4 linked regions of the Homo sapiens genome follow. The protein of the gene in region 2 interacts with the protein of the main gene of each other region in a pairwise test. Each region holds a gene or a part of one and is shown on either strand. Other genes may lie near its edges.

Region 1 (7,027 bases), on a different chromosome or scaffold from region 2:
GACTGTGTATGTCCACAAAGACATTACAACCAAAGAGTGTGAGCCCTTGAATTACCTCAAAACCCCTAGGTCAGATCAGCTAAGCACATAACACAAGTATAGAGAGCCATGAGGGTTAAAGGAAGTTAGAGGAAACAAGAAAAGTTTGAAGGAGAAAACAGAATTTGAAACAACACACACACCTAAATCCCATACACACACAGAAACACAGGCCTAAATCCTAACAATGGGGCTGAACCAAGTGGGAGGAAAGAAGCCAGTACACAAACATGTGCTAGTGAAGTGAGGGAATAGGAAAGGAGGTGTGAGAACTGAGATACTGGGCCGGGCGTGGTGGCTCACGCCTGTAATCCCAGCATTTTGGGAGGCCAAGGCGGGTGGATCATGAGGTCAGGAGATCGAGACCATCCTGGCTCATATGATGAAACCCTGTCTCTACTAAAAATACAGAAAATTAGCCGGGTATGATGGCACGAGCCTGTAGTCCCAGCTACTCGGGAGGCTGAGGCAGGAGAATTGCTTGAACCCGGGAGGCGGAGGTTGCAGTGGGCTGAGATTGTGCCACTGCACTCCAGCCTGGGCGACAGAGTGAGACTCTATCTCAAAAAAACAAAAAACAAAACAAAACAAAAAACAAACCTGAGATACTGTCGCTTGTGCTCTATCGACATTGTAGTTGAACAGTTCGCTTTAAGCAAATGCTGGATTCTTTAAATAACAACTTTTCTGAGAGTCAGATTTAAGTATTTGGTGATGATAAACTATGGTCATGTTATAGCTTTCAGCTAGCCCTCATTTCTATACTTCATTCCAAATTCCAGCCATCTTTGGCATTTAAAGCCAATAAAATTCTCAGATCACAGGAAAGGATTGAGGTTAGGGGCTGTAGTTCAATGACAGACACACAACGTAAGTGTCTGCCATATGCTAAGAACCCCCAAGCTAAAGTATCTCATTTAATCTGAATTACGAGATAGGAAATACTTTGCCATTCATTAAAAAAAAAAAAATCCAATAGCATTTCAAAAAGCAACATTATTATAAATACATATATATGATATGTAGACAGATGGCTAATTACCTCATGATCATGAGTGGCCTGCCGGGCTGCATCTAAAAATATAAAAGAATAAGAGAACATTACATTTAAAAAGAAAGCAATAACAAAACCCAAGTATACGACTCTGCCAAACTATAAAACCTGCTTGTATATGTAGATTCTCATAACATATGATATTTTTCCTTAAGGCTTTATTAATCGGTCAGCCAACAAAAGTAAGGGAACCCCATGCCTACAGAATTCATAATTAGGCATAAGAGAAACAGCAGACACAGTTCTTAACTTTAGGGAGAAAAGGGTGGAAGAGTGGACAGAAGACACAAACCAAAGACTACTTATACAACATCTATAATTTTAGCAGGCTAGATGCCCAAGTATAGAGAAGATGCAATGGCTAAGGAAAAATAGGCTAGTTGTGGATGGTGCTTCAAAAATGACACATGAAAGGCTTAGAAGTGTTAAAGGGAAGTTACTGATATAATTTTGTAGATAGGCTTGCTTACAGGCAGAGAAATGCCTAAACTGGGAATCAGGAAAAGAAGGGCAGGCAACTAACAGGGGTCTCGGAGGACAAGTCAAAATCATTGATAATAGACACGGAAACCCAGTTGAAATTTCTAAATGAGAGCAATGTGATTTTAATAAAATTTCAAGATAATGCTTGTAAGTGAATACTGGATAGTGGAGAAAAAACAGAAACACATCTTTTATAGTTACCACTCTTAACAGTTGGCTTTATGACACTCCATCACCCACAACAAACTACAAATACATTTGGTTCTGGTTTTGATACCTTGCCTATGAGATTTGCCTTTCTGACGGTCCTGGGTTTTCCTACTGAAGACCTTGTAGGCCTCTGTTTTCTGATACTGTTCCAGTTCCTTCATGTAACGCTCCTTATCTCTGTCTGCTTCATCAAGGTAGCGCTAGGAAAGAAATACAGAATTATTTTCAAGAAAATGAGATCCTATTTAAATAAAATTAAATTACCTATTTGAAGAAAACAGGACAATTAGAACATGGGAAGAAAAGAATATAGGGAATATGCCTTAAAAAAGAATCAGAAAAACAAGAGTTGTATGAATAGAATAAAATATAACCTCTCAATTATAAAAGTAAATAGGTCATTATGAGTTTTTAGAATATTTATTGCCTTTTCTAACCTAATGAAGACAAGTTCTATTGAGATCATTCTTATAAAAAATTCATGAAGATGATTAGAGTTATTCTTCTAACTCTATAGATAGAACTCTATATGGCCACTAGAGTCATCCTCATGAGATGTGCACACCACATAGGCACACTTAGTCTTCCCAAGGGAAGGAACAGAATATTACTTTGTTTTGCTGTCTCCAGCCCATTTTGAGGGGATGATGTCATACATCAATTGGCCCTTTAAGAGCCAGGAGGTTGGAGCAATGAAGCTGGGAGACACAAAGAACATAAAAATAATGACCTCATCCTATGGACCTAAAAATGGACTACTCTGAGAGAACCTATATCTACATGCTTTGATTGCTTTGTGCTATTAATTATTTAAACAAAGTTCATTGATCTACCAGGATTATTTTGTTTAATGCTTTGCCCTTTTCATTCATCAAAATGAAGTATAAGAAAGTATAAAAATACTGCTTCTAAATGAACAGAAAACACACTCAGAAATTATGTTAAACACTTTGTCCCGCGTAAGAGCCAGATGTAGGGGATACTCAACTGGCCAAATCTGGTACAATTTAAGCACCAAAATAATTAAGTACAGTAATAAATTATAAACTAGTAGAAAAAACTTCATACTATTATTAGTATGATTTATAACAGACACAATACCAATGATTTGTTACCATACAAATACAATAAATGGGTGTAGAGGCTGAGCGTGGTGGCTCACGCACGTAATCCCAACATTTTGGGAGACCGAGGTGGGTGGATCACTTGAGGTCAGGAGTTCAAGACCACACTGGTCAACATGCTGAAACCCCATCTCTACTAAAAATACAAAAATTAGCTGGGTGTGATGGTGCACGCCTGTAGTCCCAGCTACTTGGGAAGCTGAGGCTAGAGAATCGCTTGAACCTGGGAGGTGGAGGTTGCAATGAGCCGAGAGTGTGCCACCGCACTCCAGTTTGGGCGACAGAGCAAGATTCCATCTCAAAAAACAAACAAACAAACAAACAAACAAATAAATAAATGGGGGTAGGGGGTCGGGCATGGTGGCTCATATCTGTAATCACAGGATGTTGGGAGGCCAAGGCAAGAGGAGGACTGCTTGAGCCCAGATGTTTGAGTCCAGCCTAGGCAACAAAGTGAGATCCCATCTCTACAAAACATAAAATAATTAGCCAGTTTTGGTGGTGTGTGCTACTTAGGAGGCTAAGGTGGGAGGGGTGCTTGAGACCAGGAGGTCAAGGTTGCAGTAAGCCAAGATCTTGCTTAGATTAGAATGCTGAAGGCTACCTGGTAAATGTAAAGGGAGTGCTGGAGTTGGAAAAATCATCACGTTGTAACCATAATGATAAAGATTAAATCAGGCAAAAATAATCAATGGATGCTAAATCTAGGGGAAAATGTTGATGTAAAACAGGCTGTTTGTATGTTCTTAAATCGTCTCCCCATAGATTACTTATTAATGACAAAGGAGAATTTAAATAATGTACCAGGTAAGCAAAATTAACATTACTAGTGAGAAACAAAAGGACATTGTGTGCCTGCATATGTGACATATTGAGAACACACCACCACCTATGCAAGTAATCCCACCAAGAATGCGCAACCTCAATCTAATCACAAGGAAACATCTGAAAAATACACAATGAGCAATGTTCTGTTAAAGGTAAAAGCAGCGGGGGAAGCAGAAGGGAACTGTATTTTAAAAAAATATCAATGTTATAAAAGAAAAAGAAAGATTATGGAAATATCCCAGTTTAAGCTAAAGAAACTTGACTACTAAACACAAAACCTGACCCTAGACTGGAACCTGTTTTGGAAGGGAAAAATGTTATAAAGAAATGACATTCAGTCAACATATAGATGACAGATTAAAGCACTGTTAATGAAAAATTATGAAATTGATGACTACACTATGGTTATATAAGAAAATATTCTTTGACATACACACTGAAATATCCTGGGGGTAAAGGGCTACAATGTATATAATTTATCCTCACATGATTAAAACAAAATTTTGTGTGTGTCTGGGTGTACACATGCAAGTGTGTGTGTGTGTGTGTGTGTGTGTGTGACAGAGAGAGAGAGAGAGAGAGAGAAAGACTGAGCATGCAAAAGTATAAGAAAGACTGAGCATATAAGTGCATATGCAAATGGAGAAATGGAATAAAATGTGTTAACAATAGGTGAATCTGGGTAAAGAGTGTTGGGATGTTCTTTGTATTATTTTTATGTTTGTAACTTTTTGTGTATTTGAAATTATTTCCAAAAAAAGTTAAAAAAACAAAAACAAACACAAAACCTTTGTCCTACGTAATAGTGGTTATCCCAAGAAATAAGCACTGTTATTTTTACATTTTTGTTTATACATTTCTGTATTCTCTGAAAAGAGAATAATGAGCACATATTAATTTTAAAATAAAGAAAAAAAAGAAAAGAATAGCATAGTATGTACAGCCCACTATCCTTTTATACAGTAGCGCCAAAACAATGGATGATATTCACTGCTTTCTACTAGCTTGCTACCACAAACACAGAGCTTCAAAAGTTGCAACTGAATCTGATCTCTTTGAAAATTTCTGAATTCAATTAATTCCCAGGAGAGTATTTCTCCATTTGGTTTTAGTGTGTCTGGAATCCTTTTTAAAAAGTGTAAGTCATAAAAGAGTTTAAGACGTAAAAGAAATACAGATATCTTTCAGATGCTGGGAATGCTGGGAACTTTTAACCCAAAGCAGCTCCCACAACCATGACCACTGCTCAGCTTTAGTGGTACTTCAACCAGCTCATGGCTATCTTGTCCTTAATTCCTTTCAAATCTCTCTAATGAACGGATTCATTTCAGTTTGCCCATCAGGTTAGTTTCTGTCTTAGAGGAGAAAGAATTCAAGTTGTTCTTGCTTTATTTTCAATAGTAGGTTAATTTGCCAGAACTCTAGTTAAAAAAAGTATTAAAGCAGTAACATTTTTTCTTAAAAATCTTATGTGAACTGCAGAATTGTGTCAAGTGACTTTTTCTCATTTAATTCACGACTTTTCATTTAACTCAGTGGAATACATTTTATTGACAGATTTCTTAATACTGAACCACTTAAAACAATCTTATGTGAACTCAGCGTATAAAAAGTGGTGTTGCTTTGGTTGAGGGGAGTCCTAGACTCCTTCCCTGCTCACACCCCTCTAGCAAATAGTTTAAAAATCACTAGGCTAGAGAAAATTGCTATGATGGACCCTGCTATTCTGGTCTCCTAGGCACTGTGACAAAACTGCAGAATCAACTGTCCATCCTCTTTGCTTTTCTTATATAAGTTATTTCTGAGATATAATCAAAACCAAACAAAGAGTCAGGAATAGGAACAATTACCTGTTTTTCCTCAGGAGGCAGTTTACTCCATTCATTGCCTAACATCCTTGTGATTTCTGGAAATGGGACTTCTGGTCTCTTTGCTCGAAGTTGTTCTCGACGCTCATTCATGAACCGAACATATCCTGTAAGGGGGGATTTGGGTGCATTGCTGTCTCGAAGAGGTTTCTTCCTCTTTCTTCCTTTGGACCAACCTCCTCGTTTACTTCGTTGCTACAAAACAAAACAAAATAAAAAACCAAAAACCAAACAACAACCATCTCCCAAAATAACCCAACAACAACAAAAACAAACAACAACAAACAAAACAGGATTAAGAGTTGCAATTTGGCCCTGGATATTCAAAGCTCTCCACATCTGTTGTAGGTAATATACAAATGACAGCAATGCAATTTTTGAGGAACTCCAGATGCTTCACTTGCAACCTCTTTTATGTATCACACTACAAAATGTTACACTAAAGGGCTATTTTTGTGCTAATCTCAATGTATGAGAATAAGAGGTGCCATGATCACTCAGCTTTGACCTTCATATGCATATGACTGTCCCACAGACAACTGTCAGGTCCTGATTCCTGACAGGAGAGTATCCAAATGGGAAATACAGCAGCACATGCAGCATTGTGGCAGGGAGGCAGACATTGTCAGATTAGAGTAAGATGGTGTCACGTGCACCAGGCAAAAGAAGAAACAAGTTGTAGCAGAAATTAAAAATAACTCACAATGGGAGTTGCTCATTGATAACTTTCAAAGACTAGCTTATTTCCCATAGCAGATAGCAGATAGCATAGCATAGCAGATAGATACTAAATTAATATCTAAGTCTCAGAAAAATTTTAGTAAGTATAATATATCTGAAATGAAGACGAGCTCTTTGGCTTGACAATTTGTTCCTTTAGATGTACATTTTATTTTAATTTTTTTTTTGAGGTAGAGTTTTGCTCTTCTTGCCCAGGCTGTAGTGCAATGGCGCTATCTCGGCTCACCGCAACCTCCGCCTCCCAGGTTCAAGTGATTCTCCTGCCTTAGTCTTCCAAGTAGCTGGGATTACAGGCATGTGCCACCACACCCAGCTAATTTTTGTATTTTCAGTAGAGATGGGGTTTTGCCATGTTGATCAGGCTGGTCTCGAACTCCTGACCTCAGGTGATCCACCAGCCTCAGCCTCCCAAAGTGCTGGGATTATAGGCGTGATCCACTGCACCCGGCCTAGATGTACATTTTATAGTCAGAGGTCTTTATATGTTGAGTTACCAGGTAAATCAAAAGATTGAATCACCTCTGAAAAAAACTAAAGAAATGAAAAGGACTGAGGTACCACTGATGTTTCACCACAGCCTTTCTTCTTGGCCCTTTAAATAAGATGTAAGGTACATAATATTTTTACTTCATAATTTTACAAATACAGCCGTATCAGTTAATATTTCATGGATACAAGAA
Region 2 (7,027 bases):
TGGTAGCTAATGACCAACAGTTTTTGAAAAATGGAATAAAGCCATCCTGGCTAACACAGTGAAACCTCGTCTCTACTAAAAATACAAAAAAATTAGACGGGCGTGGTGGCGGGGGCCTGTACTCCCAGCTACTCGGGAGGCTGAGGCAGGAGAATGGCATGAACCTGGGAGGCGGAGCTTGCAGTGAGCCGAGATCATGCCACTGCACTCCAGCCTGGGTCACAGAGCAAGACACCATCTCAAAAAAAAAAAAAAGAGATAAAATAGAAGATAGAGCACACATAGTAAGAATGGGTATTTTATGAAACGCTGCTTTCATTTTTCTGTGTATTTACATAAGTGTATTTCTGCTGTGGGTCATGTTCAGAAACATTTAAAAACCTCTTTCTTATCAGACTTTACATTTTGTCAAATGTAGGAAGAAGTTCATCCCCACGTCCAAGGCTTACATAGTTTAAGAGATAGAGTGCTATAGATCATTTTAGAGATCTGGCTTCGAGCCCCAGCATCTCAGCTCACTGCATATAGAAACCTGTCATGTAGTTTTTTTTCTGGCGGGGAGGGGGTCTTAGTTCCCACACCCAATAAATAAGTGCATGCTATTTTTTATTCCAGTGGAAAGTAAAAAGACTACTTAATGAAATATAGTGGTCCCTCCATATCCATGGGGGTTTGGTTCCAAGACCTTCTGAGGATACCAAAATCCAAGGTTGCTCAAGGCCCTTAAATGGTGTCGGATTTGTCTATAACCAACAAACATCTTCCCATATACTTTAAATACTCTCTAGATTACTTATCATAGCTAATGCAATGTAAATGCTATGTAAATAGTTGTTATTCTGTATTTTTAAAATTGGGTTTTTAATTGTTATTTTTATTGGTTTGTGGGGTTTTTTGGTCTGAGTATTTTCCATTCATGGTTGGTTGAATCCACAGATACAGAACCCACAGATATAGGGGCCAACCGTAATATAAATGAAAGCACTTGCAATTCTCAGAGACAAGGAACGATTTTTTCACAGGTGATCTTCAATATCTCTTTATGCTTGTTTTGTCAGGAGAGCTTTTGCAGGAACAGGCATTTAGAAAGCCTTTGCCAGATTCCCCCCATGTACAGCTTCCTCACTTCAGGTAATTGAGTAGTGTCCTGTCTTGTTGACAGAGTGAATGCCTTTGGATTTCTTGCTTAATCAACTCATTGTTTGTCCACAGGTGCTGGCTTATTCTCAGACTCTGTATATTGGGAGAGAAACCGTTAACCTCCCCCAGAAATGTTTGTAGTCATACCTGTGTGATTTGTATATTTTCTCTATTTTTTGGTCTCATTTGTACTTAGACAAAGAGGCAGCTGAACGTCTTTCAAAAACAGTAGATGAAGCATGTCTGTTACTAGCAGAATATAACGGGCGCCTGGCAGCAGAACTGGAGGACCGTCGCCAGCTGGCTCGGATGTTGGTGGAGTATACCCAGAATCAGAAAGATGTTTTGTCGGAGAAGGAGAAAAAACTAGAGGTGAGTGCATTGAAGGCAGACCCAGACTGCCCACGTTTCCCTTCCTGTAGCCCACATTAGGAGGTTTTTATTATGCTTTAATTAACAACATTTTTATCGTTTAAAAATTCATGATGTGAATTCTGAACATCCATCAGATACTGTAATTATTTGAGCCCAGTTAAAAATTGAAGTCATGTTCTTATATGTCCAGGACAGAACAAACTGGATTGTAGGAAACAAACAGTGAACTCTTAATCACAGCCTTAGGATCTTAATATTGCTTTCGTTTGAACTCATGTTTTTAAAAAAATTACGAATTGAGGTACAAAAAGGATAGCAAATCAGTGAAAACCAAAGAATATGTTTGGTAGTATTTGGGAAGTGCTGAAAAATGTTTCTTTCAAGTCATTTGGAGGTTTATTTCTTTTTTTTTTTGAGACGCAGTCTCGCTCCGTCGCCCAGGCTGGAGTGCAGCGGTGCGATCTCGGCTCACTGCAAGCTCTGCCTCCCAGGTTCACGCCATTCTCCTGCCTCAGCCTCCCAAGTAGCTGGAACTACAGGCGTCCACCACCACGCCTGGCTAATTTTTTGTATTTTTAGTAGGGACGGGGTTTCACCATGTTAGCCAGGATAGTCTTGATCTCCTGACCTCATGATCTGCCCACCTCAGCCTCCCAAAGTGCTGGGATTACAGGTGTGAGCCACCGCGCCCAGCCGTTTGGAGGTTTATTTCTGACTTTATCCATGCTGCGGCCAAGAAGTTGTCTGCCTCCAAGATCTATCTGTAATTAGCTCTTAAATGTCACAGTAGTATTTATATAGCACAGTTCTCAAACTGTAAAAGACCTCATTTCTACCCTGGGTTGAGGACATTAGTCTGAGTGACCTTGGGGAGGGAGTTCAGAAACATTTCCTCACCATACACTTGTTTGGCTTCGTAATTAAGTACATGGTAGTTTACCCTCAGTACTTGCTCCCGTGGGATAACAGAGCCAGCAGTGTGGATTTTTGGGAACTTTGCTGCCCCGGGCTGCTGCACTTCCTTTTCAGGAATGTCTGCTCTTCTTTTTTTAAGAGATATGGAAAAGAGTTGCAGCCAGTGGTTTTGTGAAGGAGGACACTTCTGAGTTAGAGAGCCAGTCATGTTGTATTTCAAGAAATACTTCTTAAATCCCACTCAGAGTAGACAAGGGACAGGGAGAGCCATGTCACCTCCATGCTCAGGAAACGTGCTCTGGCACAGAAGGAGGGAACATTGAGCTATCTCTGAGGCTGAGATCATTGTATTTGCCTTTCAGCATGGTCATCTGACTTGAGGGGAAATGAGTGGCAGGCACTTTTTACCGTATCCTTACCTGCAGTGATTCTGGGAACTGTGTTGCGTAGTGGTAGCAGGAACTTCACATTCGTAGCCTGCTTGAATGTGGAAGATGGGAAAGGGCTGTAAAAATCCTACAGCTTAGATTTAGACATCGGCACTGACCAGAGATCCTAAAGGGAGTTTTACAGGCAGTACCAGACGGTCATTTATCTGAAATGCTCATCTTTCACTGAGGAAGCATTTTCAGCACTGTGCCCCGGGACTAATAAGAGAGTGTAATTAATGATTCTGGTTGTAAGTCACCATGCCATCTGTTGAACTGCCCCTTGGCGACACATTAAGGGCTTTCTCTGATCTGTCAGACATTGATTATCATGAGCAGCTGTTGTTGGGTAGAACGTGGCAAGCAACCATAGAGGACAGAGTCTTTGAGGAGATCGGGTTGGTAGAGCTGGTTAACTCTTTGTTCTGTTTTCCCTCCCCACAGTTGCACTCTGCTCTGTATATTGTTGGGGAATCATTCTGGTTTTTGTAGAACTAGTGGTTTGCTGGACGCCACGAGAGGGCATTAAGGTGGAGAAACAGATTAGAGCTTTGGATGCGTTCTGTAACTTTCCAGTCTGCGTTGCTCTGCGCGGTTCATTCAGTGGAATGGGGCTGGCATTCCATTGCTGAAGAAGCGGAACAGAAAGGCCCCACCACTGGAACCAACGTACAGAGTCTGAACTGAAGGTTCTTATCTCAAACCATGTCTCCGAGGCACATGAGCAGAACCATTTATTGTAAAAAATAGAGCCGATTTGCTGCATTAAAGAAAGCAAATGACTAGATACAGTATAAGGTTTTTTTCTGAGATGGAGTCTCGCTCTGTCACTCAGGTTGGAGTGCAGTGACGTGATCTCAGCTCACTGCAGCCTCCACCTCCCAGGCTCAACCAATCCCCCGTCTCAGCCTCCTGAGTAGCTGGGATTATAGATTATAGGCATGTACTACCACGCCCGGCTAATTTTTTTTGTTTTTAGCAGAGACAGAGTTTCACCATATTGGCCAGGCTGGTCTTGAACTCCTGACGTCAAGTGATCTGGCCGCTTCACAATATAAGATTTGAGAGATGGTTTTAGTTCTTTTCTTTATCCACGCTTGCTAAAAATTTAGGCAGTCTGCTCTCCTGAACCTAAGATTTTTCTCTCACATTCTGTAATAGACTGGTCCTGTCCCATCACATCCCTATGGTGGTGGCCGAACTTGATAAATGTATGCCCCTTGAAAGATGCGTGAATACTGTGAATTCCTTCAGATTGTCCAAAAGTCTCTCTGCGTGATGGGGCAGTACATAAAGTTTACCCACTTTTTTAACATTCATTTTTGTAACACAGCCAGTCCGTTTTAAAACTTCCAAATCAGAATGCTAATTAAATATTTTATTTTTTAATCCTTTCATTGCCTTCAGGATATACATAGATGAAATTCTCAGAACTCTTTGGAGAAGTAGTTATTTGCTTGCGAGTCTGTTTTCATCCCAAAGCTCTAATATACTTAGGTTTTGTGCTTTCCTTTTTAACTTTGTATCTTGCTTTATGTAATAAGCATCTTTTTCTCTTTCACTTGGGAATTTTATGTCGGTGGCTCCTGCATGTCAGGATAGGGCGTGTGATGATTCAGAGCCTAGGATGTAGGAGAGGGAATTACGGCTCAAAGTAGGAGATTGTGTTTCTTCCCTCGAGGAAATCATATTCTGGTATAAAAAACACAGGTGAACATAAAACCAAACCACTTGATCGTACATAATGTAGATTAAGGAGGCATTTGGCGGTTCTGATTGTGGTTTAAGGTAAGTCCAAACTTCCTGTCAGGCAATAAAACCTTTTTGTAAAAGGAACTAGCAGTTGAAGAAGAGAAGCATGTTTATAAATGGGGAGCAGTTAGACTGGACCAGACAGGTATCTGAAGAAAGACAAAGTCAGATGTGGGAAGGAGGTGCTGCAGACCACCAGTGGGAGATTAAGGTCTGTGCTCTTTAAGAAGCTACGTATTCATTCAGGGAGTCAGCAAAGCCTGTGCCAGCCAGATGTACAAAGATGGGCACGATGCACTTCTCCCCTCAAAGGGCTTATGCTCTAGTCAGGGGGAAATAGCAGCAAACAAGGGGTTAGGGTAGAATTCAAGATAGGTTGTCAGTAAGGAAAATATTCTCACTTGTGTCTACCTTGAAATAGACCAAGAAAAAAATGAAGATGCTAATAATAATTTGATCAGATGCTTATTAAAATTGTGAGAGTTATCAAATCATGGACAGTTTCTGAAACTGTAATGCCTTCAGCAGGTCTCCCAAAGTTTGCTAGACTGTATACTCTTTGAGTGCTCTCACAGTGCCAGGAACATATTTGTTCCTCAGTAAATACTTGTTCTGTGAAATCCATCACTTGATGTAACCTTTTTCTATAGAGAAAAGGGTTTTTTTTTAAGGTTGCATTAAAAGTGGCTTAACAAATCTGATTTAATGATTGGTTGTAAAGAATATGTTAGTACGGAAAGGTAACCATTTTTAGAAGTTTCTGTAGGTTTTCTCCTTTGTACTACTTTTCTTTTTTCCTTTAAGTAGAATTATGCTTTATTCTGAGATAATCATCTTTTTTTGTTTGTTTGTTTTTGACTTTTGCTTCAGGGTGTCATGATTGACTTTGGCCTATGATGTTGGCCCTTAAACACCAGGCAAGGGTGGAAGGAATGCTGCTGAAAATCTGTGGGTAATGTTTTTGTCATGAACATGAGAAAACCTAGAAATGGAGAAGGCACGTGGAAGGAAGCACAAATGGCAGCCCAAAGAGGAGGTTAGAGAATGTGGAGGGTATAGAAGAAAGCCCATTCAGAAAGGCAAAGGCCAAAGATACCAGAAAAGCCTTCCAGCTTCACTTCCAGAGCAAAGAGAAGCTTTGTTTGTGGTTGACAGAGGTGACTACATTACTCCCAGATGTCTGCTCAAAGCTCATAAGACATAGCGTGAGTGGGTTGGATAGGGTTCCTGTCTTGTCAGCGTGAATAAAGCATGATACAGACATGTTCTGTTAGCATGATCAGTGCATGTGGAAGAGTGTGTGTGTGAGAAAGAAACCTATTTGTACAAGTATTAAGGAAAGAAAAAAGGTCAGGAACCTGCAGTTTTCCCTTCTTAACTGTGATTTTTTTTTTTTTTTTTTTGAGACAGACTCTTGCTCTGTTGCCCAGGGCTAGAGTGCAGTAGAGCAATCTGAGCTCACTGCCTCCCGGGTTCAAGCGATTCTCGTGCCTCAGCCTCCCGAGTAGCTGGGACTACAGGCGCATGCCACCACACCCAGCTAATTTTTGTATTTTTAGTAGAGATGGGGTTTTGCCATGTTGGGCAGGCTGGTCTCGAACTCCTGATCTCAGGTGATCCACCTGCCTTGGCCTCCCAAAGTGTTGGAATTACAGGCATGCGCCTCCATGCCTGGCCTTAACTGTGAATTTTATTCAGATCATGGTGTCTGACTGTCAGCGATCTAGAACTGAAAGCAGATAGTCCTGTGTTGACCCACATGCCACATGGTGCACACACACAAAGATGATATGCCACACAGGGAAGAGCTCTTGAGAAATTTGTTCCAAGCTGCAGATTTATTGTTTTAGTTGAGGTGAAATTCATATAACGTAAATTAACCATGCACTTCAAAGTGCACACATTTTGGTGGCATTTAGTACGTTCACAGTATTGTATCAAGTTCCAAAACATAATTGTGTCTGGCTTCTTTCGGCACGATGTTTTCAAGATTCATCCCATGTTGTAGCATATATCAGTACTTCATCTCTTTTATGGTAGAACACTAATCTGTTGTATGGATGTGACACAGTTTATAACCTGTCTATGGACATTTGAGTTGTTGCCACCTTTTGGCTCTTATGAATAGTGTTGCTATAAACAGTCATGTGGAGGTTTTTGTGTGGCCATATCTTTTCATTTCTCTTGGTTATGTATAAATCTAGGAGTGGAATTGCTGGGTCATATGGTAATTCTATGTAACATTTTGAGGAACCATCAGACTGTTTTCCACAGCAGCTACATCATTTTACATCCCCACTAGCAATGTGCGTGGGTTCCAGTTTCTCCACATCCTCATCAACATTTGTTATTGTCTCTTTATTTTCGACAACCTACATGTGCAGGTTTATCTCATTGTGATTTTGATTTGCATTTTG
Region 3 (7,027 bases), on a different chromosome or scaffold from region 2:
ACAGCAGCTTAGGAGAGTAGTCACCGGGATGCATGTCTGTGGAGGAGCGAACTCATTTCTCTTGAGCAGTGCAGCAGCTGCCTGGCACAAGGACAGAATTCCAGCTGGGGGAGCCTTCGCATGAAGAGGCTGTCTCCTTGATTAAAAAGTCAGATTCTGAGGCTGAGTGTGGTGTCTCACACCTGTAATCCCAGCACTTTGGGAGGCCAAGGCAGGTGGATCACTTGAGGTCAGGAGTTTGAGACCCGCCTGGCCAACATGGTGAAACCCTGTCTCTACTAAAAATACAAAAATTAGCCAGGTGTGGTGGTGCATGCCTGTAGTTCCAGCTACTCGGGAGGCTGAGGCAGGAGAATCGCTTGAACCCAGGAGGTGGAGGTTGCAGTGAGCCAAGATTACGCCATTGCACTCCAGCCTGGGCAACAGAGCAAGACTCCGTCTCAAAAAAAAAAAAAAAAGTCAGATTCTGGAGGCAGACTACTTTGGTTCAAAGTTTTGGCTCCATCCTAATTGGATATGTGATCTTGGGCAAGTTTTTAAAACTTGATGCACCTGAGTTTCTGCATCTGTGTATGAGGATGGCAGCAGTGCTGGCCTCCCGTGTTAGAAGGGTCACGTGAGTCGATGTGTGCGAGGCGCCCGGAGCAGTATCTCACAGTCAGCTCTCCACGTGTCACTCCTCTGCTGCTGCCTTCGTGGAACCTGAGAGTTGGCATACCTGATGGCCATTTCTTACCTGTAGGTCAAGCCGTGCTAACACTGTTACCCCAGCCGTGGGCCGATTGGAGGTGTCCATGGTCAAACCAACTCCAGGCCTGACACCCAGGTTTGACTCAAGGTGAGTATCGAGGGAAACACTTGGATTTGATGGGACTCCAACATTGAGCACTACCCAGAGAAGGAGTGTCTAAGAAAATACTCCTAGGCCAGGCACGGTAGCTCACGCCTGTAATACCAGCACTTTGAGAGGCCGAGGCAGGCGGATCACTTGAGGTCAGGAGTTCAAGACCAGCCTGGCCAAGATGATGAAACGCTGCGTCTACTAAAAATACAAAAATTAGTTGGGTGTGGTGGTGCACGCCTGTAATCCCAGCTACTCAGGAGGCTGAGACAGGAGAATTGCTTGAACCCAGGAGGTGGAGGTTGCAGTGAGCTGCAATTGCACCACTGCACTCCAGCCTGGGCAACAGAGTGAGACTCTGTCTTAAGAAAAGAAAAGAAAATAGTCCCGAGTCCTTGGCCTGGGATGCCTTGTCAGAGGACAGTGGCCAGCTGGGTTTCCTGGTGTATGCCTCTCCCTTAAGTGTAGTTTCACCTATCTTCAGTGGCAAAATGATTCTTTAATGGGAGGGAGGTGAATATTCTGCCTGTGATGACTAGGAGGCCTCTAGGTGACGTTTTTGGCCTTTTCTGATTCAAATCAGAAGGTTTTTATTTTATTTTTAAAATATTTATTTATTATGAGGCAGGGTCTCACTCCAATGCCCAGGCTGGAGAGCAGTGGCACAATCACGGCTCACTGCAACCTTGACTTCCCGGGCTCAAGTGCTTCTCCCACCTTAGCTCCCAAGCATGCCACCATGCCTGGCTAATTTTTTGTTTTTTTGTAGCGATGGGATTTCGCCAGGTTGCCCAGGCTGGTCTCGAACTCCTGAGCTCAAGCAATCTGCCCACCTCGGCCTTCCAATGTACTGGGATTACAAGCATGAGCCATCACACCCGGCCTCAAATCAGTTTTTTAAAGATGAGTAGGCACTCTCCTGTACTCTTGGTAGAAGTAAAAATTGATACTGCTTTTTTGGAGGCTGGCATAAGCGAGGATATTCTTGCAGCATAAGTTAATACCTTCCAAAGAACCTAGTTGACCAAATAGGAGATGCTGTATAGCCATTAAAAAAGACTGGATCTGTGTGTGCTGACAGGGAAAGAGCACCGTGATCACAGAGCATCTCCGAGCAGGTTGCTGAACACTGTGCTGTATGATCCCATTTGGTTTTATATACATACAAAGTTTCTGGAAGGATAGATAAGGAATTCAGAGTGGTTACCCCTGGGGAGGAGAGCAAGAAGTGGTTATCTCTGGTGTGGGGAAGTGTTGAAGATTTATTTTCTACTTTTAATTGCCACTTTTTTTTTTTTTTTTTTTTTTTTTTTTTGAGACGGAGTCTCGCTCTGTCACCCAGGCTGGAGTGCAATGGCACAATCTCGGCTCACTGCAACCTCCACCTCTCAGGTTCAAGCAATTCTCCTGCCTCAGCCTCCTGAGTAGCTGAGATTATAGGTACATGCCACCATGCCCAGCTAAGTTTTGTATTTTTAATAGAGACAGGATTTTGCCATGTTGGCCAGGCTGGTCTCGAACTCCTGACCTCAGGTGATCCACCCCCCTCGGCCTCCCAAAGTGCTGGGATTACAGGTATGAGCCACGGCACTCAGCCAGTTCCCACTTTTCTTTACTGTTTGTTTTCTCACATGAATATGTAACAAAAGGCATTTAGGGAAAACTAGGTAGCAGTATTTTAACTGTCTTGAGAAATTAGTATAATGATGTAATATCTAAATCATCCTCCTTTGCCTCTGAAAAATTCCTCTTGATGGAAGCAGCCACGCCTGGAAACAATTAACCAGCGTATTTCTGGCTTTGTGGATGGATGGATGATGGCACCCATATGGAGCTTTGGACCTAAACTTTATGTGGATAAGAGTTGGCTTTTTGTAAGATGTATGTTCAATAATTACAACCTTCTTTCTCCAGCTGTGTTTAGTCATTACTGCTTTAAAACATTTTTTTTTTCTAAATTTAGAACGTGCTTTCTTAGGAATGTATGACTTAAAAACTGCAACTTGAGGCCAGAGTAAGGTTAAAATGGCCTATAGAGTTTGGTGTCATCCAATTGCCAAGCTATCTTCACAGAGATTTTCCCATTCTAGGGTCTTCAAGACCCCTGGCCTGCGTACTCCAGCAGCAGGAGAGCGGATTTACAACATCTCAGGGAATGGCAGCCCTCTTGCTGACAGCAAAGAGATCTTCCTCACTGTGCCAGTGGGCGGCGGAGAGGTGAAGTATTTCCAAGGGAAGCCAGGCCACAGTGTGCTGCTTAGTCAAGCATTTCTTTTCCCTGGGCCCTCACCCACGCTTCACCCTCAGAGTCCTTTCAGTGCGTGGGTCCTGATCTCCACACTTCTGCGGGACTCAGAACCCAGTTTTCTCTCCCAGGTTAGAGGCCCAGACTGCAAAGATCGTTGCTCAGCTCTGGGTTCTGTTTTTCTGTTTTTTGGTTTTGTTTTTGTTTTTTGTGGGTTTTTTTTTTTTTTTTTTGAGATGGAGTCTTGCTCTGTCACCAGGCGGGAGTGCAGTGGTGCGATCTCGGCTCACTGCAACCTCTGCCTCCTGGGTTCAAGCGATTCTCTTGCCTCAGCCTCCTGAGTAGCTGGGACTACAGGCACACGCCATCATGCCCAGCTAACTTTTGTATTTTTGGTAGAGATGGGGGTTTCACCACGTTGGCCAGGATGGTCTCGATTGCTTGACCTCGTGATCCGCCCTCCTCGGCGTCCCAAAGTGCTGGGATTACAGGCATGAGCCACCGTGCCCACCTTTTTTTTTTTTTTTTTTGAGATGGAGTCTCACTCTGTCGCCCAGCCTGGAGTGCAGTGGCACGATCTCAGCTCACTGCAACCTCTGCCTCCCAGGTTCAAGTGATTCTCCTGCCTCAGCCTCCTGAGTAACTGGGACTACAGGCACATGCCACCACACCCGGCTAATTTTTGTATTTTTAGTAGAGATGGTGTTTCACCATATTGGTCAAGCTGGTCTCAAACTCCTGACCTCAGGTGATCCACACACCTCAGCCTCCCAAGGTGCTGGGATTACAGGTGCAAGCCACCACACCCGGCCTCCATCTGTTCATCAACTAACATTTGCCCATCCGATTGTAGTAGGCCCAAGAAGTAGACATGGGGCCTGCCCTTAGAAAGCAGCTCAGTGGTCAAGATGGGTTTGCAATCATGGTACCTGTGATATGCGCAATAATAGAGATGTTAAAGGGTGGTGCAGAGGAGGGCACCACCGAGGTATGCGCTTAGTCTAGAACCCGGACCATGAGCTGTGCCTTCAGCTTTGTATAACTTAAGGGATTCTGAAGCAAGCTGAGCTCAGTGTCTCTGGGCTGCATGGAGCGAGTTGCTGACCTCAGCCCCTGTGAGGGGAGGACGGTTTGTTTCAGACATACTCTGCAGGGCATTTCTTAGATGATGTGCGTGCCTTTTGTGCCCAGGTAATCCAGCCTCCACCCTAGTGATAGTGCTGATGAAGTCATTGTCTCCTTAGAGCTAATATCCTTCCTGCCTGTCTTGCCACTTCTCCATCCCAGCCATTCCCCACCACTAAGTGCAGGATATCAGGGGAACCTAGGGGTTCCGGCCCTAAGGGCCATGGCCAGTTTAACCCACTCCCCTTTCTATTCAGAGCCTGCGATTATTGGCCAGTGACTTGCAGAGGCACAGTATTGCCCAGCTGGATCCAGAGGCCTTGGGAAACATTAAGAAGCTCTCCGTAAGTCTCATATTCATCTCCACACATAGGATGCCTCCAGTAGCTTTCTTGGGCTACCTTTATTTAGGATTGTCTTTTGGGCCTGGGCTAATACTTTCTACTTAAATTTGTGTTGTCTTCCTTCCCCCAAGAGATTTTGACTCTTACCCTACTTAGATAGCAGCAGTTCTGTTCCTCAGTTGATGTTGAGTTTTGTTCAATCCCAGGGTGCCTGCCACAGAAGTTCCACTGCAAAATCAAAATTCTGCCTCATTCAGGCAGTTAGTGCTAGGGGTATGTTAGGTCACTATTGGCCACCAGAAAGTGAAACCTAGAGTAGCTCAAGAATGAGGGTCGGGGCTTGTTATCAGGAATCTTACAGAATCAAAGAGCGAGCTGAACGGCCAAGCCTCTGGAGTGGTGGGGCCCATCAGCTGGGGCCTGTGTGCTCATTTCTCTCACACATCTTCATTCCTCCCTCAGCAGATAACCTTCTCCACAGGCTCCAGGTTCTGTGCTTACTTAACATTGTTTTGCATGTGGCTTTGAGTAACCACACCTCCAATCCCAACTTTATTGCTCTATTGCCCAATTGTTCAATTTCTTGTCTTGGTTTAAATTCTGAAGAGGGCCAGGCACAGTGGCACACACCTGTAATCCCTGCAGCTCAGGAGGCTCAGGTGAGAGAAATTGTTTGAGCCCATGAGTTCAAGGCTGCAGTGACCCATGATCGTGCTGCTGCACTCCAGCCTGGGTGACAGAGAAAGACCTCAGCTCTAAAAATAAAGTAAATTATCAATTTAATTTAACTGAAGAATGTAATGGCTCCGCCAGGGATGAACCTCCTTGGTCTGGTCAGCCATCATCTTGGGTGGTGGATGAAGCACTTAGTGTAAACATGGCAACCTTACCCTCATCCTTCTGTGGGGTCTGAAGGGTACATCCAAGGAAGGGGACAAGGCGGGGCTGGTTTCCTAAACCTGTCTTTCTGAACATAGGCCCAGTGCTGAGATCCCACACACACCTAGCCACCCAAATCTTGTGACTGTCATCCTCTAGCTAGATCTATTGCAATGTTCTTCTCAAATCTATGATACCTTTACTGTCTCACTTGAGTTGTTATTTTACTCCCTTGTTCAGATGAGAAACAGGTTCAGAAAGGTGAATTCATGTGTGATACAGATAGAGAATGGAGGGGCTCAGGCTGACTGTGGGAGGCCAAGGGGCAAGCCTGCCAAGTGACATCTTCTACAATGACCTCTCTCCTTTTCTTTTTAGAACCGTCTCGCCCAAATCTGCAGCAGCATACGGACCCACAAATGAGACACCAAAGTTGACAGGATGGACTTTTAATGGGCACTTCTGGGACCCTGAAGAGACTTCTTCCCTTCAGGCTTATTGTTTGAGTGTGAAGTTCCAGAGCAAGGAGCCATGTTCCTCTAAGGGAATTCAGGAATTCAGACGTGCTAGTCCCACACCAGTTAGGTAGAGCTGTCTGTTCACCCTCCCATCCCAGCTGATCCCAGTCACTGCTTGCTGGGGCCATGCCATGGAAGCTTCCCATCAGTCTCCCAGCTGAATCCTCCCTGCTCTCTGAGCTGCTGCCTTTTGCCTCCTGCAACTCAACATCCTCTTCACCCTGCCCTGCCTGCAGTTGAGGGGGCGAAGAAGAACCCTGTGTTCTCAGGAAGACTGCCTCCACCACCGCTACCCAGAGAACCTCTGCATCTGGCATTTCTGCTCTCTATGCTTGAGACCGGGAGGTTTAGGCTCAGATAAGTGAGCTCTGGGCCATGAGAGGGTAGGTCCAGAAGGTGGGGGGAACTGTACAGATCAGCAGAGCAGGACAGTTGGCAGCAGTGACCTCAGTAGGGAACATGTCCGTCTACCCTCTCGCACTCATGACACCTCCCCCTACCAGCCCTCCTCTTCCTCCTCCTCCTCCTCCTGTGGGAGGTGGTCAGTGGGACTTAGGGATCTTTCACCTGCTGTGCCCAGTAGTTCTGAAGTCTGCTTGTGGAGCAGTGTTTTATGTTTATCCCTGTTTACTGAAGACCAAATACTGGTTTGGAGACAACTTCCATGTCTTGCTCTTCTACCTCCCTAGTTAGTGGAAATTTGGATAAGGGAACTGTAGGGCCCAGATTCTGGAGGTTTTATGTCATTGGCCACAGAATAACTGTCTCTAAGCTATCCATGGTCCAGTGGTCCCTGCCAAGTCTGTAGACTTCAGAGAGCACTTCTCTCTTATGGGGTTCATGGGAACAGGGGTGGGTGTGACTTGCTTGGTGGCCTCATTCCATGTGTGCCTGTGCCTGGGGCATGGACTTTGTTAAGCAGAGTCAGCAGTGAGGTCCTCATTCTCCAGCCAGCCTCTCTGCCCTGGAGAATCATGTGCTATGTTCTAAGAATTTGAGAACTAGAGTCCTCATCCCCAGGCTTGAAGGCACATGGCTTTCTCATGTAGGGCTCTCTGTGGTATTTGTTATTATT
Region 4 (7,027 bases), on a different chromosome or scaffold from region 2:
GTAGAGAAGTGGGTGAGACTGGAAGGGTGGGAAGGAGAAGTCTGGCTACTTGTATCTTGGCCTGGGGATTTGTTTGGAAGATGAATTATCCTCTGGTAGTTGTGTACAGTTTACAGGTCAGTGATTAGTATGAGTCCGTGAATAGTGCCAGTTAATACTGATTAACTGCTGTACTTTTTGCCAATAAATATTGTAAAGCTATAAAGACAACAGAGTTAATACAAGTTGCTAAAGAGAAACTTGTGGTAAATGTCTTTAAATGTTGTTTAAAATAGAAATGGCCAATCTAGCAGGCATGCTGAGGAAATGATGTTTTTGCAGAAGGGAAATTTAGCAATGACAGTTTTGCAGAATATATTGGTAATGAAGTGTTACTTGTAGCTGCTGACAAATTAGTTTTCTTAAAAAATATATCCCCTAGGAAGACTGTAGTATGAAAGAATGAGAACCGTAATTGGTGGATGAGCCTGGAGAGTTTGAAGGTAAGAGAGAAAGAGAAGCAGCGAGGGAGAGAAGGAGAGAGAGAGAGAGAGAGAGTGAGTGTGTGTGTGTGTGTGTGTGTGTTTCAAGGTAACATGCAAGAACAATAAGGTTCTTCTTGTGTGGTTGTAATTTTTTTTTTTTTTTTTTTGAGACAGGGTCGCACTCTGTCACCCAGGCTAGAGCATAGTGGCATAATTATGGCTCACTACAGCCTCGACCTCTGGGCTGAGGTGATGCTCCCACCTCAGCCTCCTAACTAGCTGCGACTACAGGTGTGCACCACTGTGCCCAGCTAATTTTTGTATTTTTTGTAGAGATAGAGTTTCCTCATGTTGCCCAGCCTGGTCACAATCTCCAGGGCTTAAGCTCTGCCGTCCTTGGCCTCTCAAAGTCCTGGGATTGCAGGCTTCCACCACCGTGCCCGGCCCTTGTGTGGAATTTTTAAAAAATCCTGACTTATCTGTTTGTTTGTTTGTTTGTTTTTTTTTTTTGAGACAGAGTTTTGCTCTTGTTGCCCAGGCTGGAGTGCAATGGCGTGATCTCAGCTTACCACAACCTCTGCCTCTCACGTTCAAAGTGATTCTCCTGCCTCAGCCTCCCAAGTAGCTGGGTTTACAAGCGTGCGCCACCATGCCCAGCTAATTTCGTAATTTTAGTAGAGACAGGGTTTCTCCATTTTGGTCAGGGTGGTATTGAACTCCCAACCTCAGGTGATCCGCCCACCTCAGCCTCCCAAAGTGCTGGGATTACAGGCGTGAGCCACTGCGCCCGGCCTATCCGCACTTTTTTTTATGATTGCTCACATGTGACATGTCTTGTTTTTCTTCTAGGATGTTGAGAAAGAGAAGGAAACCCACAGTTACCTCAGCAAAGAGGAGATCAAAGAGAAAGTTCATAAATACAACTTAGCAGTCACAGACAAGTTGAAGATGACCTTGGTAAGCACTCAAAATACTATTTAGGTTGACACCTGTCAAAAGACAAATATAAATTGTTGGTACTACAATCTATAGTTCTAAATATCTGAATAGCATTTGTAGAAGTGTAGTAGTCAAGGTATACAGAACAGGAAAGTGGAATATTTCTGTGGCTTTCCATTTAAATCTGTATTGTGAAGTAGCTTTGTCTCAAAAATCAGTTGCTGGGTTAACCTTAAAAAAGTGAAACACTTATAATTTTATTTTAAAAGATTTTGTGACCCACCCCTCCCTCCTCAAAGGATTTTTAGCATCATTGCCTAACATACAGAAATGGTGACTCAGATTCTAAGAAGACCTCAGGTAAGGTTTTTTGTTTTGTTTTGTTTTGAAACAAGGTTTTGCTCTGTCACCTGGGCTGGAGAGCAGTGGCACGATCACCGCTCACTGCAGCCTCGACCTCCGGGCTCAAGTAATCCTCCCACCTCAGCCTCCCGAGTAGCTGGGACCACAGGTGCTTGCCACCATGCCCAGCTAATTTTTGTATTTTTTGTAGAGACGGGGTTTTGCCATATCACCCAGGCTCATCTCAAATTCCTTGGCTCAAGGGATCTGCCCAGCTTGGCCTCCCAAAGTGCTGGGATTACAGGTATCAGAAGCCCCTAAGTTTTTGTCTTGTACAAAATAAATATGGAAGTGTCAGGGAAAGGATTTTGAGCCCATGGATTGGAATATAGAGGTATATAATAGGATAGTTTTCTCTGCCGGTCGTTAGTGTAAGACAAGGTACTTAATACTCAGTTTCTTCCACGTCGCTGTCGCAGGCTTCCACAGCATTGTGCCACACTGAAGCATGCAGGGAGTCGGCGTACAGGAGGGAGAAGCCTCAGGGCCTGGGGATAGGGAAACGAGCTGACAGCGGAGCTAGAGTATTCATGTTCCTCTAAACTTAGCTGGCATCTAGGTCTCGCCTACCCATTGGGTGGCCCGCCTTCTTCATGGCACTTGTCAGCCCTTGGCGCCAGTTTCCAGGGCACTTGGATCCCCGTCTCTCAGTCTGTTTACTGTGAACTGACAGAGTTTGGTAAAGGACAAGGTGATTGGTTTAAAACAGGCCCTACCGAATCGGTGATTCTTGGGGAGGAGCTTTCAGATAGAAACCCTTGTGGTAAAGGACCCCTCCCTGGTAGAACTCCTCCAAAAAGAGGGGAGAGGAGCAGAGAATCCCAAGATAACTCTTCATCATTCCAGCAGCAAGATTTCTTTTTCAAACACATTTTTTCATCAAAGGAGAAATCCACTTGCTATGTTTTTTTTTTTTCCTTTCCTGATAGAGACTAAAACAGATACAAATTATCCATGTCATTTTAAAGATAAAAATTTTAGGCTGGGCACAGTGGCTCACACCTGTAATCTCAGCATTTTGGGAGGCTGAGGCGGGTGGATCACTTGAAGTCAAGAGTTCGACGGTGGCTCACGCCTGTAATCCAGCACTTTGGGAGGCCGAGGTGGGCAGATCACGAGGTCAGGAGATCGAGACCATCCTGGCTAACACAGTGAAACCCTGTCTCTACTAAAAATACAAAAATTAGCCAGGCGTGGTGGCGGGCGCCTGTAGTCCCAGCTACGCGGGAGGCTGAGGCAGAAGAATGGCGTGAACCCAGGAGGCAGAGCTTGCAGTGAGGCAAGATCGTGCCACTGCACTCCAGCCTAGGCGACAGAGCAAGACTCCATCTCAAAAAAAAGAGTTCAAGGCCAGCCTAGTCAACATGGCAAAACCCCATCTCTCCTAAAAATAGAAAAATTAGCCAGGCATGGTGGCGGGTGCCTGCAGTCCCAGCTACTCAGGAGGCTGAGGCAGGAGGATCACTTGAACTCAGGAAGTTGAGGCTGCAGTGAGCTGTGTTCGTGCCACTGCACTCCAGCCTGGGTGAGAGAGTGAGACCCTGTCTCAAAAAAGAACAAACTAGAGAATTAGGATTGAAAATTGATCTTGTGGGAAGGAAGAAAAATAACACACCATAAAGATAGTTTTAAATGTTCTACTTTAACTGTGGCATTTATATGTAACACTTGACAGTTTAATAAAACAGTACAATAAATCTTTTCTAAATATACTGTTTTTGTTTGTTTTTGAGATGCAGTCTCTGTCGCCCAGGCTGAAGTGTAATGGCGTAATCTCGTAATCTCGGCTCACTGCAACCTCCACCTCTGGGTTCAAGAGATTCTCCTGCCTCAGCCTCCCGAGTAGCTGGGATTATAGGCACCTGCCACCACACCCAGCTAATTTTTTTTTATTTTTATTTTTAGTAGAGACGGGATTTCACCCTGTTGGCCAGGCTGGTCTCGAACTCCTGACCTCCAGTGGTCTGCTCGCCTCGGCCTCCCAAAGTGCTGAGATTACAGACATGAGCCACTGCGCCTGGCCCCAAATATACTGAATACAAAAATAAAAATAAAAAGTGAAGACCAAACTGTTATTACTGTTTTTGGCAACTAAGAAATAGTAATTCTACCATCAGTGAAGGTAGTTGTTTTTAAGATCTGTACTGTGAAGTATAGTGGTTTGAATTTGTTTTTTTTTGTTTTGTTTTGTTTTTGTTTTTTGTTTTTTTTTTTGAGACAGAATCTTGCTCTGTCGCCCAGGCTGGAGTGCAATGGCGTGATCTTGGCTCATTGCAACCTCCACCTTCTGGTTTCAAGCGATTGAATTTTTTTTTAAAATGCTGCTTAAGAGACCCGAAATGCATTCTATGCTGTATGGCATATATGCTGCATTAAAAAGTTTAAGCAGAGTTAGTAATTCAGTGCATATGAATATAGCCACTAGGAATGAAAATAGCCTGTTTTCTTACTGTCCCCTTGTTGTTGACTTCAGTATTTCAGAGCCCTAATTGTGACCTTCCTTTTGTGTATAATAGTCACCAGTTGAGGATGTTGTTTCCTTTGAGCCTGTAGCCTAGACATATCCCCCAAGCTTTAATAAGTTTTGTGGTTTGGCTAGCATCTGCTCCGTTGGATTGTAACCTCGCAAATGGACCCTGACCTTTTGCCAGTAGCTTCAGAGGCATGAGTCTGGGGCCGGCAGTCAGCCACAGCATCAGGAGGCTTCTTCAGTGTCCACATCTGCCCTGCAGACCTTGCCTCTGGAAGCACTTTGCCTGGTGTGTTAACCGCCCTCTGAGGTCATTCCTTTGGGGGCAATCTTTAGTGAAGTTCTGCCACAAACCTCAAGAGAAGAGAACAAAGGAGTGTTTCACCTTCCCGTTTTGTTTTGATATGCTTCTTCCCTAAAGTGCCACCATCCACCCAGCTAAGTGTGTGCTTCTCTCCCTGCTTCAGAATTCAAATGGGATTTACACTGGCTTCATTAAAGTACAGATGGAACTCTGCAAACCTCCACAGACTTCTCCAAATTCTGGAAAACTCTCTCCCAGTAGCAATGGCTGTATGAATACACTTCATATCAGCAGCACAAACACTGTCGGGGAAGTGATCGAGGCCCTGCTCAAAAAGTTTCTCGTGACTGAGAGCCCTGCCAAGTTTGCACTTTATAAGCGTTGTCACAGGGAAGACCAAGGTACGCTGCCAGCTTAAAAGGAAAATGGTCTGTGCTTCTACTTGCATCTGCTGTTCTCATTAGCAGAGGGAAGACTGGTGGGTCTCATCCATGTCAGTTGTGTCAGAGCCTGGAGTCCGATGCTGGAAGCCATGGTGATCTTAGCATGCACTTAGTGCTTCCTGGCTGTCCATATTTTTGAGTTGGACAGTTGAGGGTCTGAGGAGCTTGGAAGCATCCATATGTGATTGGCAGTTACGAGTATTTTGTGGTGTTGGTGGGGGGATGGGGCGGGGGCTGTTTTTGGTGGTTGTTAGGAGTGGCTTTGATTTTAGTTTTCTTTAGGACACAAAAGAGTGCCTCTGTGTTTGAAGTTTTCAATAGCACATTCCACATTTGATGTGCATCAGTACGTGGAGTGGTTTGGTGGATGTGTGCTGAGATCTTGCGACTGGGGAGGCACATGTGCATCACAGCACATTTCAGCGTACTGATGGAAACGGCCCAGCCCTGGGCTCTCCTGTTGCCTTAGCTTGTCTCACTTGGTGTTACGCCGGGACATTTTGGTACTCTGTCCCCCAGAGGCTCATCAAATGAGTGAATAACATTTTGATCTAGGGTCTGACTAAAACTTCATATCCACATTCAGGGGATAGAAAGAGAACATTAAATATTAAATTACTGCGTGAAACAGAATGAGATATTCCAGGTCAGGCAGTGACCAGAAATTGATAACATTGGTGGACAGTAGTGATTCAGTGACTCACTACATGCGATTTGAAATCGGGGTGTGTGTGTGTGTGTGTGTGTGTGTACAATAAACTATTTAAGCTTTCTTTGGTTTTTCTCGGTAAAGCCTAATGTAGCTATAGAAGAAAATATATTAACCTTGACATGATAGTAATGTTCTTCAGTTACACAGGATGAAACCCAGCTCATTGCTGAGTATGCATACATCTTTTTAAAAACAAACCATGGGGCTAGACCCTGTGGAATACAAAGATGAACAGGCCAGGGTTCCTACCTTCAGAGGTCACAAGCTTAGTATTGTGGGGGCTTATATCTATAGGGAAATTGGCACCTGCGATGCAGTGCATCTGGAAGTGCCACAATAATGTAGAGAAGCTCGATGGCATTTTTATCTGCCAGTTTCTTTGCCTGCTCACCTGGACTTTAGCTGTACAATCTGAAAGTAATCGTGACTTGTTGAAATATTACCCCCATGGCTGGCAAATCCTTTAACATGATTGGCAATGTCACTGTATGTGTGTGTCTAGCATGAGACATATATAGCTGTGCTTGAAGCTACCGGAGCTTATATTCTGATTGCTTGGTTTGTAGCTGCTAATTCGCTAATTCTTTTTTTTTTTTTGAGACGGAGTCTCGTTCTGTCACCCAGGCTGGAGGTGCAGTGGCGCAATCTTGGCTCACTGCAAGCTCCACCTCCCGGGTTCACGCCATTCTCCTGCCTCAGCCTCCCGAGTAGCTGGGACTTACAGGCGCCCGCCACCACGTCTGGCTAATTTTTTTGTGTTTTTAGTAGAGACGGGATTTCACTGTGTTAGCTAGGATGGTCTCGATCTCCTGACCTTGTGATCCGCCCGCCTCAGCCTCCCAAAGTGCTGGGATTGCAGGTGTGAGCCACCGCGCCTGGCCTCGCTAATTCTTAATTAATCTGTAGAGAGATTTGCTTTTAGAACTCTTGTTTTTATGTTCTTTGGATGGTATATACATTTTTTTTTAAATTTGTTTTTTGTTTGTTTGTTTGAGACGGAGTCTTGCTCTGTTGCCCAGGCTGGTGTGCAGTGGCACAATCTCGGCTCACTGCAACCTCCGCCTCCTGGGTTCCAGTGATTCTCCTGCCTCAGCCTCCCAAGTAGCTACAATTACAAGTGCCCACCACCATGCCCAGCTAACTTTTGTATTTTTAGTAGAGACAGAGTTTCACCATGTTGGTGGCCAGGCTGGTCTCAAACTCCTGACCCCAGGCAATCTGCCTGTCTCGGCCTCCCAAAGTGCTGGGATTACAGGTATGAGCCACCACGCCTGGCCTTGGTTTTTGAGACAG

Evidence for each region.
Region 1: the proteins of RPRD1B (region 2) and HMG20A interact in binary tests that used the Homo sapiens proteins (3 or more experiments, as listed by UniProt).
Region 3: the proteins of RPRD1B (region 2) and CDCA8 interact in binary tests that used the Homo sapiens proteins (3 or more experiments, as listed by UniProt).
Region 4: the proteins of RPRD1B (region 2) and RASSF3 interact in binary tests that used the Homo sapiens proteins (3 or more experiments, as listed by UniProt).

The regions. Positions count from the first base shown.
Region 1 is NC_000015.10:77,465,869-77,472,895, reverse strand, and holds part of HMG20A (high mobility group protein 20A), read right to left. Parts: intron 5,802-7,027; coding exon 5,589-5,801; intron 1,987-5,588; coding exon 1,854-1,986; intron 1,114-1,853; coding exon 1,082-1,113; intron 1-1,081. UniProt on the Homo sapiens protein: Plays a role in neuronal differentiation as chromatin-associated protein. Acts as inhibitor of HMG20B. Overcomes the repressive effects of the neuronal silencer REST and induces the activation of neuronal-specific genes.
Region 2 is NC_000020.11:38,064,745-38,071,771, forward strand, and holds part of RPRD1B (regulation of nuclear pre-mRNA domain-containing protein 1B), read left to right. Parts: intron 1-1,336; coding exon 1,337-1,512; intron 1,513-7,027. UniProt on the Homo sapiens protein: Interacts with phosphorylated C-terminal heptapeptide repeat domain (CTD) of the largest RNA polymerase II subunit POLR2A, and participates in dephosphorylation of the CTD by RPAP2. Transcriptional regulator which enhances expression of CCND1.
Region 3 is NC_000001.11:37,702,510-37,709,536, forward strand, and holds part of CDCA8 (borealin), read left to right. Parts: intron 1-742; coding exon 743-838; intron 839-2,931; coding exon 2,932-3,058; intron 3,059-4,468; coding exon 4,469-4,555; intron 4,556-5,812; coding exon 5,813-5,857; 3' UTR 5,858-7,027.
Region 4 is NC_000012.12:64,683,474-64,690,500, forward strand, and holds part of RASSF3 (ras association domain-containing protein 3), read left to right. Parts: intron 1-1,313; coding exon 1,314-1,421; intron 1,422-4,742; coding exon 4,743-4,980; intron 4,981-7,027.